Regions from separate parts of the Homo sapiens genome. Here regions 2, 3 and 4 are each linked to region 1. Evidence: fine-mapped expression QTL. A gene starts in region 1. Each other region holds a variant in brackets. All regions are shown on one strand. Distances are from middle to middle. Region 1 holds the start of RAB15 (RAB15, member RAS oncogene family). Region 2 overlaps LOC105370534 (a long non-coding RNA gene). Region 3 overlaps CHURC1-FNTB (CHURC1-FNTB readthrough). Region 4 overlaps LOC105370534 (a long non-coding RNA gene).

Region 1 (2,686 bases):
CATAGTGCTGTCTGGGATGCCACCGGGTCTTGTCCCTCTAACCACAGGCTCCAGCACTGCCAGATGAGAGATGCCCTCAGGCGGGTCCTGCCTGCCTTCTGACCCCTTGGTCTGGGCAGGTATTCCTGACACTCCTCCATCCTCTTTAGCCTCCCTCAGAACAGATGTCTCCTCTTCCCAGGCGCAGGGGCTCCTCACCCTATCTGTGTCCTCCCCCAGGTGTCCCACCTTGCGGCTTACCTTCCCAACTCTGCCCTGGAAACTCGATCCCTGTGGCCCCTCCGTACGTCCTCTCTTCCCCCCCTCGCCCCCCGCCGGCTCCACCTTGGGTCACCACAGAACCAAGGGCGCCTCAGTGACTCCGGTCTCCACCCTGACCCCCTTTTCCGTAGCAGAAGCTTTACTTCCCCTCCCCCTGGGGGTGTGGGGATGTTATTCCAGCGGCTACGATTCTTGCTACCCCAGCTCGGGGTACCCAGGCCTACACCAGCTCCCCTCACCCCCGGTTTCTCGGTTTGATGGGACGGAAGGCTTCCCGGCAAGAGGCGGGAGACCCCACCCCTGGTCCGGACGGCAGGCAGCAGGGACACCCTCACCTGCCAAAACCTATGCTCACCCCGAGATTTATCCCGGACTCCGGCCTCCGGCGCCACCGCCTCCAGCCGGAGGGGCTGGCAATTCCTCCCCAGCTGGGGACGGGGGCGGCGGGGAAAGGGGCCGCGGGCGGGGAGGGAGGGGCGCCCCGGGCCACCGCCCCTTACCGATGGTGGAGATGTGCGAGGAGTGGAACTCGTTGTCGGTGAAGCGGCACAGCAGGCAGGTCTTGCCCACCCCGGAGTCCCCGATCAGCAGCAGCCGGAACAGCACATCGTACTGCTTCGCCATGACTGGGGCCAGCGGGGCCGGGAACTGCGGGCGGGCAGCGGGCTCAGCCCTGCTCCGCCGCTGCCATCGCGGCCCGCGCCCGCCCGGGGACGCTGCGGGCGGCGAGGAGGACGCCGGGCCCGGCCCCCGCGGCTGCCTCGCCCGCCCGCCTGCCCACTCGCTCGCTGGGTGCCGGGAAGCGCGGCTGCGGCGGGAGCCCGGCGCGGCGCCCGCTCGGCTCGGCTCGGCTCGGCTGGGCTGGCGCGAGGCGGTGGGAGGAGAAACCGGCGGCGGCCCCTGCCCGCCCCTTCCCCTGCGCCGCCGCCGCCGCCCCGGAGAGAGGGGGCGGGGAGCGCGCGCAGGAGAGCGGGACCCCATCGAGCAGGCGACGCTGGGGCGGGGCGCCAGCCCCCCCTCCCAACCCCTTCCTGCCCGGGGCGGGGGAACGTTTTCGTTTTTCCGCGGACGCTCCGAATGGGGGAGTTGAGGTGAGCCCCCACCCAGCCCACTTCTACCGTGCTCCGCTTTCCGGGCTCACCACTTCTCCCCATATCCCACCCCAAGTCTGGCGCCGGTAATTCCGCCCGCCGTGGCACCCTGCATCTGCAGGATCTGGCCGGGCTCCCCAGTGGCTGGTACCTCAGCTGGGCTCACCCGAGGTAGGAAGGCCTTGAGCAGGATCTGGATTCGAACACCCGTCTCCATGAGTCCCCGAGAGTGTGGGTGGAATTCCCCCTCCCTGCCATCTGGCTGCCCCTTACCTGTGTGACTGTGTCACGGCCCTCCCCCGTCCCCATTTTTTCTTTAAATGGGGAAAATGCCTATTCACGGCCTCCACCAGGGTGAAAAGATAGATGGCCATAAGAACATCTCCAAGTGCAAAATCCTTTAGAGGTGTGCGGGCAAGTCTCCGTTTTCCCTCTAAGGTGCTTAGGATAGGTGCCCAGGTGACCAATGTATTGTTTCAGACCCCTAAATTTCTCTGTGGTATAGCCAGTGGCACCAAAGAATGAATGGCCCTTGTTCAAGATCCAGTTTCCTACCACTGAATGTGTTAGCACCGGAGAGAGGCAAATGAATGCTCTCCGGAGTTGAGAAAATTGCCTATCCCTACCAACGAGTATTGAGGGAGAGCAAAGTCTAGCCTATTAGGTCTTTAAAAAGCAATGAAAGGCTAGGCGCGTTGGCTCATGCCTGTAATCCCAGTACTTTGGGAGGCTGAGGCGGGCAGATCACTTTGAGGTCAGGAGCTGGAGACCAGCCTGGCCAATGTAGTGAAACCCAGTCTCTACTAAAAATAAAAAAAAATTAGCTGGGCACGGTGGCTCGCCTGTAATCCCAGGCTTGAGAGGCTGAGGTGGGAGGATTGCTTGAACCCATTAGGGGAAGGCTGCAGTGAGCCGAGATCATGACACTGCACTCCAGCCTGCGCAACAGAGGGAGACCTTGTCTCAAAAAAAAAAAAAAAAAAGCAATGAAAAGTATATATGTACATACCTGTTTTCAGGCTGAATATTGGATGGAGAATGTATTTTTCAATAGTAGGTCAAGGAAAGTGGTAAGCCCATTTACTTCATTTGAAAAGGTATATTTCAGGTTAAGTGTCTGAATTATAATAAGAGGGGAAAAGTTCAAGACCAGCCTGGCCAACATGGTGAAACCCCATCTCTACTAAAAATATAAAAAAATTAGCTGGGCGTGGTGGCCGGTGCCTGTAATCCCAGCTACTCGGGAGGCTGAGGCAGGAGAATTGCTTGAACCTGAGAGGCGAAGGTTGCGGTGAGCCGAGATTGCGCCATTGCACTCCAGCCTGGGCAACAAG
Region 2 (2,686 bases), 91 kb before region 1:
CGGCGCAGGGGGAGGAGGGCAGCGCGGGGCTCCTGGCACAGCGGCCGCCGGGCGCCTGGTGCTGCCGAGCCGCGGACCCGCCCAGAGATATAAATAACATTATCTGAGGAGGGACATTCCTGCCGGGGGACATCGCTGCTGCCGGGACCAGATAGTCCCGCGGCGGGGGCGGGGAGGCGGGGCCGCAGCCTCCCGCAGCGCCAAGCCCAGCCCCCGCCTTCCCCACCCACTCACGCACCTGCCAATCAGCCTCCGCGCCTGGGGGCACCTGCCGGGCCTCAGCCCGGCTCCTGGAACCCGCCTCTGCCTCCCCGCCCGCCGCTGAGCCTGGGGCGCCTCCATCGTCGTTCATTGCCCCTAACCCCGCGCCACCCCGAGCCCCCTGAGGCGGGAAGGGGGTTGGACTCTAGCTCGGGCCTAATTCGTGCGCCCGGAGAGGCAAGCCTGGTGGCGAAAATGAGCCCTCCAGCCTTTCCCGCCCTGCATCCCCACTGCACACAGTTCAGTTTTTAAAATATATGAAAAGACATTTAGGCCATAGGGTGGGCGCGGCGGGTACCCGGGAGGTGAACCCCCGCCGTGGCGGGTTTGGGAGGGACAGATTGTTCCCGGGGGCTGGTGCATTAGAAAGCGCGCTCCCGGGCGGGCTTCTCTCGGCTGGCGGTGGGAGGGCAGGGGGCGGGCACTGGGCCCGAGGGCCCCACCCCCAGCCCGAGCTCAGTGTCGCTGTTTCTGCCCGAAAACCTAGTGTAATCAGGACGAACCAGGCAAAGCTGGCGGCGCGCAGCCTGCAGTCCCAAGGAGCTCGCACATTGTAGGGACTGTAATCAACAGGCAGGCTGCCACACCTGCCCACTGGCACCTCCTGGCCGGCCCGGGTCTCCGGGCGAGTGGGGGTGCCTCACTACAAGCCTGGATGAGGCGCGGCGCAGCAGGCCAGAGGAAATACTAGAACCGATGGTGCCAAAAAGGCATCTCCGAGTTGCCCCCGGAGAGAAACTCAATAGAACACCGGCAGCTTGCAAGGCAGTACATTTTCTTGACTTTCTAACGATCAAGGTCATTGTTCAGTAAGGTTTACGTGTACGCCTTGAGGTAGCTTTCATCTCTTTTCTCCACCTGCGGTGCCTGGGATGATTTCTCACCAGCTATCAACGCAGGTAATCTCAGGTATTATGG[A/C]AATGGCCGTGGAGATTAAAAGCGCATAGATGCAGAAGAAGTTTTAACTTTTACTGATGCTGCCTGGTGTTCTTAACAAGGGAACAGTCTTACTCCTGAGTTATTTGCTTGGGATTATAATTGTGCTGTTTTCCAGAATTCACCCAGGAAAGGGGTGTTTGCCAGATGTTCGAGTTTAGTTTATATATTGAACATATGCAAAGATACTTCACTTCCTGCTGCAGTCCCACTTCTTGAGGGTGGGTATTTAGACACTGAGATGTGCTGAGTGGGACAAACGCCCCAGGTATTACAGAGCCACAGAATTCTTCACTCCACCCTCCTCTTGGCTGGATCCTTATTACAGCTCAATTTTCCAAGAGACACTAGTAATATGGGAAAGAGGATACAAAAACATTCATGGTCATCGATAGATTCGCAGTGATCCCCTCCTCCCCTTTGTTGACAACATTTAAGAATGCATTTTTCTATTACTGAGTTAAAAAGAGAAAGTTCTGTTTTGTGAAAAAAAATGTTTAAAAGTCAAATTCTGGCAAGGAAAGCTCAAGAAAAACAGGCCAACTTCAAAAGCTGAGACTATTATATATCTCAAGAAGAAATCCTTCATCTATTTTTGTTAGAAAAAAATGGAGGGAAATTATGTATTTATGGTTTTTTAAAAGCTTGTATGAATAAACTTATTAGATAAATTCATGGTTCTCTAGAATGGTGGTTCTGCAGCTACGTAATTATATACTATGCAAGCCAGATAATTCCTTAGCTATAGGTCTGTGGCACTGAACTGAATAGTTGCATACATATTTTTCTTTGTAGCCTTAAAATTTATAATTTTCAACCATAAGAAAAAATTAATATGATAAAACTCCAAATCAGCAGACAGATTACCCCAACATTTTACAAACCAGCTCAGCTGCTTTAGTTATCTCCACTTTAGCTGAAAGCTAAATAATTCAATACAACCTCATTTGCTACAGAGCATGTTATCCTGACAGCATCCCCAAATGCTTTACAGCTAATAGAGTTACAGTGAAATGATAAATCAGAACTGAGGAAGAGAGGAAATTTAGGCTTGCAGTGAGGAAAGGGCATTGTCAAATAATAGGGAAAGGGGAACAGATCTCTGTGGCCAGGAATGAGAAATTGGGAGAATAAAAGAAGGGAGAAAGGTTGGGCATGGTGACTCACACCTGTAATCCCAGTACTTTGGGAGGCCGAGGCAGGCGGATCACTTGAGGTCAGGAGTTCAAGACAAGCCTGGCCAACATGGCAAAACCCTATCTCTACTAAAAACACAAAAATTAGCTGGGTGTGGTGGTGCGCACCTGTAATCCCAGCTACTTGGGAAGCTGAGGCAGGAGAATCACTTGAACCTGGGAGGCATAGGCTGCAGTGAGCCAAGATCACGCCACTGCACTCCCACCTGGGTGACAAAGCAAGACTCTGTTTCAAAAAAAAAAAAAAAAAAAGAAGGGAGAAGGAAACACATACATATGTTCGTTATCAAGGT
Region 3 (2,686 bases), 40 kb before region 1:
CTACAAAAAATTTAAAAATTAGCCAGGCGTGATGCCGAGTGCTTGTAATCTCAATTACTTGGGGGTCTGAGGTGGGATGATCACTTGAGCACAGGAGGTCAAGGCTGCAGTGAACCATCATTGCACCACTGCACTCCAATCTGGGCAACACAGTGATACCGTGTCTAAAAAAAAAAAGAAAAAGGACCTTGCCCTAAGGGTTTTTGCCTAAAACAAAATCTCCTCTATTACCAATCTGGGCATTTATTAAGCCTGGGAAACAAACTTCTTAAATGGATCAAATTCCCAGACAACTAGCCATCTGAAAATGAGGCAGGACATACTAGTGAATTTAACATAATTGTTTATTTTCCTAGGGTAGATAAAAATAGCTTTTTCAGTTTGGGAATTTTCTCCTTTCAAAAAATTGTTTCTGTTGTGTATTAGTGTTAAATATGCTAGAAAGGAACAGCTGTAAGAATAGGAATTTGTCCATAGGGACCCACACTCAAATTGCTTCATTACTTTAAATAGCACTAAGCTAAATATATGTGCTTTCTGAGAAATAGCCATGTATTTCCAAGATGACATTTATGTATCAATTTATATAAACAACAGGCTCTGGAATATACAGAATAAGCCTAAGACATTGCTGATACATGTTGAAGAAATTGATCCAATGTACAGAAAGAATATTCATGACAATTTGTAGAGAACATCTTAACTAGAGTAAGTTATAAAGCATCTTTTTCCCTGTTCCTCTAGGTAATTATGCACTTTATCTTGTTCTAGGAGTATACCATGCTGTGTCTGTTATGCGGCAAAGCCGAAGATACTATCAGTATTCTCCCTGATGACCCCCGACAAATGACTCTCTTATTCTAAGGATCCTTCTACAGATCTGTTATAACTATATTGTGTTGGTTTACAATACAGCAAGCCTGATGGTTTGTCTTATTTCATTCATACTGAAAATTCTTTGCATATTTTTTTTCTGCTTAGACTTACTTATTCTTTGAGGAAAAAAGGTAATGTAGGAGCTCATTGTTCTCTAGAGCTGAGCTCTTCTGCTAAAGTTCAAAGTTCACATCAGTGTAGCCAGAGTGAAGCATCTTTGTTAGCAGTTATGTGGTCAGAAAACAACTAGAATGGGAGCACACCTGGTGCCCAGATTTTGGTTTCCAATAAAAGGAACCAGGACTCCTTAGAAAATGAACTGATTCTAGA[A/G]CTGGGATATGAACTGTACAAGATGAGCCTAGAGTATCTTGTGCCACAGAAAAATGAAGTACTGAAATTAAAAAAAAAAAATCATAGTGATTGGGAGTATGTCAGCATGATCGAACTGAAGGATCTCTGAAAGGCCACAGCTGGAGCAATTTGAGTAACAAAATAAAGTAGTATTGGGTTATAACCCAAACTATATAATAAATATTTACAAGCCCAAACTAATATAAATGATTGAATGGGAACAAATCTCTTGTGCAGAAGAATTTCAAATAATTTATGTAGATACTCCCCACTTAGTGGGCTCTGCATAGTGACTTCCTTGCAGAGTATAATATGGAAAGGGGGGAAAAGAGTAACTTTACAGTGGAGAAATCTGACAGACACCAGCTCAGCCAGGTGATTGAGGTTAACATCATCCATGATAAGCCCTTTTGATAGCATGTATCCTTGATAGCATCACATCATACAGAATGTGATAAGAATGGCACTTTACCTCTGTGGTCCTCCTCCCCAGAACTCAGAACCCAAGTCTGATCAGGAGAAAAACATCACACAAATTCCAATTGAGAAGCATTCTTTAAAATACCTAACCAGTACTTCTCAAAACTATCAAGGCCATAAAAAACAAGGAAAATCTGAGACATGGTCACAGCCAAGAGGAGCCTGAGAAGACATGACTGCTAGATGTAATGTGGTATCCTACATGGAATTATATACCACGAAAAGAAAAAAAGGTCATTTGGTAGAAACTAGGGAAATCTGAATACAGTGTGGACTTCAGTTAATATAAATGAGAAAATGGTTTCATTGGCTTTAAAGGGATTTTAGAATATCTTACTTTGCATAGTTTCATGAGCACTGGCCAGGAGGTTATAAACTGGCATTTAGGCCTCTCTGCCATTTAGTAGCAGTATAGTCATTAAGCAAAGCATTACTCTGGACTTTATTGTCCTGTTTCTATCAAATTGGACTAACAAAAATTGATATAATACATTCATCACAGTATTGTTAGGAGATTTAAATGAATTAGTGAATGTAAGATACTTTAGAAAGCATGTAAAGTACTAGAAACAATGAGGTGGCTTCAATTAGTGCTCATTCTGAGACCTAAATTTAAAGGGTCAGGCATTAGAAACAAAAGTGTTTCTTCATATCTAGGAGATTTGGAAATTCTGAACTAAGGTCTTATAAGAACAAGAAATGAGCAAAGTGTTCATTGTAGATACTAGGGAAAAGCTTTGTTGAATAACAGTAATGATGATAATATCTGAGCTTTATTAAGTACTTACTACATGCTAAGAGCTTTTTAAGCACTTATTTAATCCTCATTAACAAATTCATAAGGTAGGTGCTATTGATAGTTTAGCCATAACCAGATATGGCTTGTTATTTGTAAGTTATCATGAAAAGGTTTATATTCACTATTCTTTATTTCAGTGTAGCACTTTTAGAGCCAAAAAAACTCAGGCACAAAGAAGTT
Region 4 (2,686 bases), 82 kb before region 1:
ATAATGAATGCCCTCCTAAGATAATAACATGAATGCATTTATGGGGGCAGAGCCCTCATGACCTAATAACTCCCTCAAGATCCCACCTGTCTGGACGGATTGTTTGAGCTCAGGAATTCAAAACCAGCCTTGAGAACATGGCAAAACCCAGTCTCTACAAAAAAAAATTAAAAATTAGCTGGGCATGGTTGTACATGCCTGTAGTCCCAGCTACTCAGGAGGCTGGGGTGGGAGGATCACCTGAGCCTGGGAGGCCGAGGCTGCAGCAAGCCGAGATCACACCACTGCACTCCCACCTGGGCAACAGAGTAAGACTCTGTCTCGAAAAAAAAAAAAAAAAAAACCACCTGTCAACACTGCTGCATTGGGGATTAAGTCTCCAACACATGAACTTTGGGGAACACATTCAAACCATAGCAAACCCTAACCATTTTATGACAGGATTGATCTTATAACTTTGTTTTCTTTACTATTGTGCTTTAATTATTTGAGTTTCCTAAGGTTGCCTAATTAACCTTGATAACTATATTTATTACTCAAATAAACATCAAAAAATGCAGAACAAATTATAAGATAGGTTAACTATCAAGTGGGAATTCATACAAGATAAGTCAGCAAAAGAAGAAGAATAAGCTTTTTTTTTTCTTTTCTTTTCTTGAGAGACAGAGTCTTGTTATGTTACCCAGGCTGGTTTCAAACTCTTGAGCTCAAGGAATCCTGCCATCTCAACCTCCCAAGCAGCTAGGACTACAGGTGTGAGGCACTGCACACAGCTGAGAATAAGCTTCTTACATGCAAAATGGTGGCCTGGGTGCAGTGGCTCACACCTGTAATCCTAGCACTTCAGGAAGCCAAGGTGGTAGATCACTTGAGGTCAGGAGTTCAAGACCAGCCTGGCCAACATGGTGAAACCCTGTCTCTACATCTCTACTAAAAATACAAAATAAAATACGTGGTGGTGTGTGCCTATAATCCTGGCTGAGGTGGGAGAATCACTTGAACCCAGGATGCAGAGGTTGCAGTAAGCCGAGATCGTGCCACTGCACTCCAGCCTGGGCGAAGGAGTGAGACTCTAGCT[C/CA]AAAAAAAAAAAAAAAAGCAAAATAGTGAATAAGTTTTGAAGTTGAAAATTGGTAGAAAAAAAAAATCTTGTGGGAAATCATAAAGACAGGTCACTACTGTGGTTGTTATCAGTCAAAAAGTGTGTGGCGTAGTTGCAACACCCAGTATGGGGATCTGGATCTCTATGTGGGATGGGCGATCTGAGTGTCCAAACGGGATCTAAACTTCTCTACTTGAGGAATCTTCCTGTTGCTGACTTAAATGATTGTTAGTAGTATATTATTTGCTTTTTGCCATTTGTATCATACCTTTCATACTCAAATTCCTTGACTCAATTTGGGAATCAATGGCTATAGAGGTTAACTAAGGAGTTAGCGAGTGCATAGAGAAGCTATGAAAATAGAGAATAGAGAAGCTATGAGAATAGAGAAGCTATGCTCACAAGGAAGAGAATTTCTGAGGTTTAGACTCAGAGCAGCTCAGGAAGTCAACTGGTCTCTGCCTACTGGAAGTGCTGGAGGCATGCAAGGACCATGACCAGAAACTCTAAGTGGAGCCACAACAAGTCAAGAACAGCATGCACATAATTTACAGTTTATCTCTCACTAACTCATTATTTATTTTACTTGTTATATTCTGCTTACTGAAGGGATTTTTGAAGGTGTTCTTGTGATTTATTTACCAGAACAAAGTTCTGTATCAGTCTTCTCTTCCCAACTAAATTGTATAATGCTTGATACTTTAAAAAGTTTCTCTTCTATTGCCCAAGATCCCTAGTATGATACTAAACAATGATAGGTGGATAGGGCATACGCAAAAATAATGCTGAAGATTTTAATACGCATAAGTACACAGCATAAGTACATAGTTTCTACTAGTTGCTTTAATGAATAAAGCTATGTTACAGATTCTAGCTCATCTCCTGGATCCCACATAAGACATGGTGACCATATGTTCCAGTTTGCGCAAAACAGGTTTGCACCTGTTATCCTGGCATAATCGTTAATAGTGCTCCCTTGGCACTCTCAAAAATGTACTGGTTTGGACAATAAATTATACAATGACCTTATTGATCAGCTGCCCCCCAGGGGCTTCCCAGTAATTTCCAATGTACAAAAAGTAATTTTGCCTTAACAGTGAAGGAAAGCTTTATGGCAAAAGACAACCACAAAGTACAAAGTTAAAATTACATTAACTACTTACTATTTCCTATGTAAGATGGTTTATCTCTATGTAAATGTGAGCCAACTCTGCCCTCTGCTGTCTTATGACAGTATTATGACACTGTTTCAGCTTCATTGATTGAAGCTGATTGTGTTAGTCGTGCTGACTACCTTAGATTGTGGATTCTCATCTTTGCCTACTGCTATATTAGCTTTTAAAAATCCCCACTGTCTATGCTGCATCCTACACCAGTAAATCAGAATCTCTCAGGATGGGACCCAATCATGAATTTTTGTAAGCTCCCCAGTTGATTTCAATGTGCAACTAAGGTTAAGAACGGTTGCTTAGAACATCAGATTGAATAGTCTGTTGTGGTTCACTTAGCTATTTGATTTCACAGTCCAGATTAGACTATACTCCTAATTATGTCTGGGAATCCTTGGAGATTGGAAGAAAAAGATGA

Evidence for each region. PIP is the estimated chance that this variant, and not a neighbour inherited with it, causes the effect.
Region 2: its variant is fine-mapped to the expression of RAB15 in whole blood (INTERVAL, PIP above 0.99).
Region 3: its variant is fine-mapped to the expression of RAB15 in whole blood (TOPMed, PIP 0.98).
Region 4: its variant is fine-mapped to the expression of RAB15 in naive CD8 T cells (Schmiedel 2018, PIP 0.95).

The regions. Positions count from the first base shown.
Region 1 is chr14:64,971,192-64,973,877 of GRCh38, forward strand. It overlaps RAB15 (RAB15, member RAS oncogene family), which reads right to left and starts at 1,145. Exons shown (of 7, transcript NM_001308154.2): 1 at 762-1,145. The coding sequence starts at 885. All of the region lies in intron 3 of CHURC1-FNTB (CHURC1-FNTB readthrough), which reads left to right. RefSeq lists a silencer at 938-1,307.
Region 2 is chr14:64,879,845-64,882,530 of GRCh38, forward strand. It overlaps LOC105370534 (a long non-coding RNA gene), which reads right to left. Exons shown (of 3, transcript XR_943942.3): 3 at 1,037-1,544. It overlaps SPTB (spectrin beta, erythrocytic), which reads right to left and starts at 63. Exons shown (of 36, transcript NM_001355436.2): 1 at 1-63. RefSeq lists silencers at 174-343, 394-533, 604-683. The variant A/C (reference allele first, on the strand shown) is at 1,180.
Region 3 is chr14:64,931,367-64,934,052 of GRCh38, forward strand. The region is part of intron 3 of CHURC1-FNTB (CHURC1-FNTB readthrough); the gene reads left to right. It overlaps CHURC1 (churchill domain containing 1), which reads left to right. Exons shown (of 4, transcript NM_001386928.1): 4 at 772-2,686. The coding sequence ends at 864. Among named protein-coding and RNA genes, the nearest start is that of GPX2, 10 kb to the right of the region's middle. The variant A/G (reference allele first, on the strand shown) is at 1,207.
Region 4 is chr14:64,889,670-64,892,355 of GRCh38, forward strand. The region is part of intron 1 of LOC105370534 (a long non-coding RNA gene); the gene reads right to left. Among named protein-coding and RNA genes, the nearest start is that of SPTB, 11 kb to the left of the region's middle. The variant C/CA (reference allele first, on the strand shown) is at 1,079.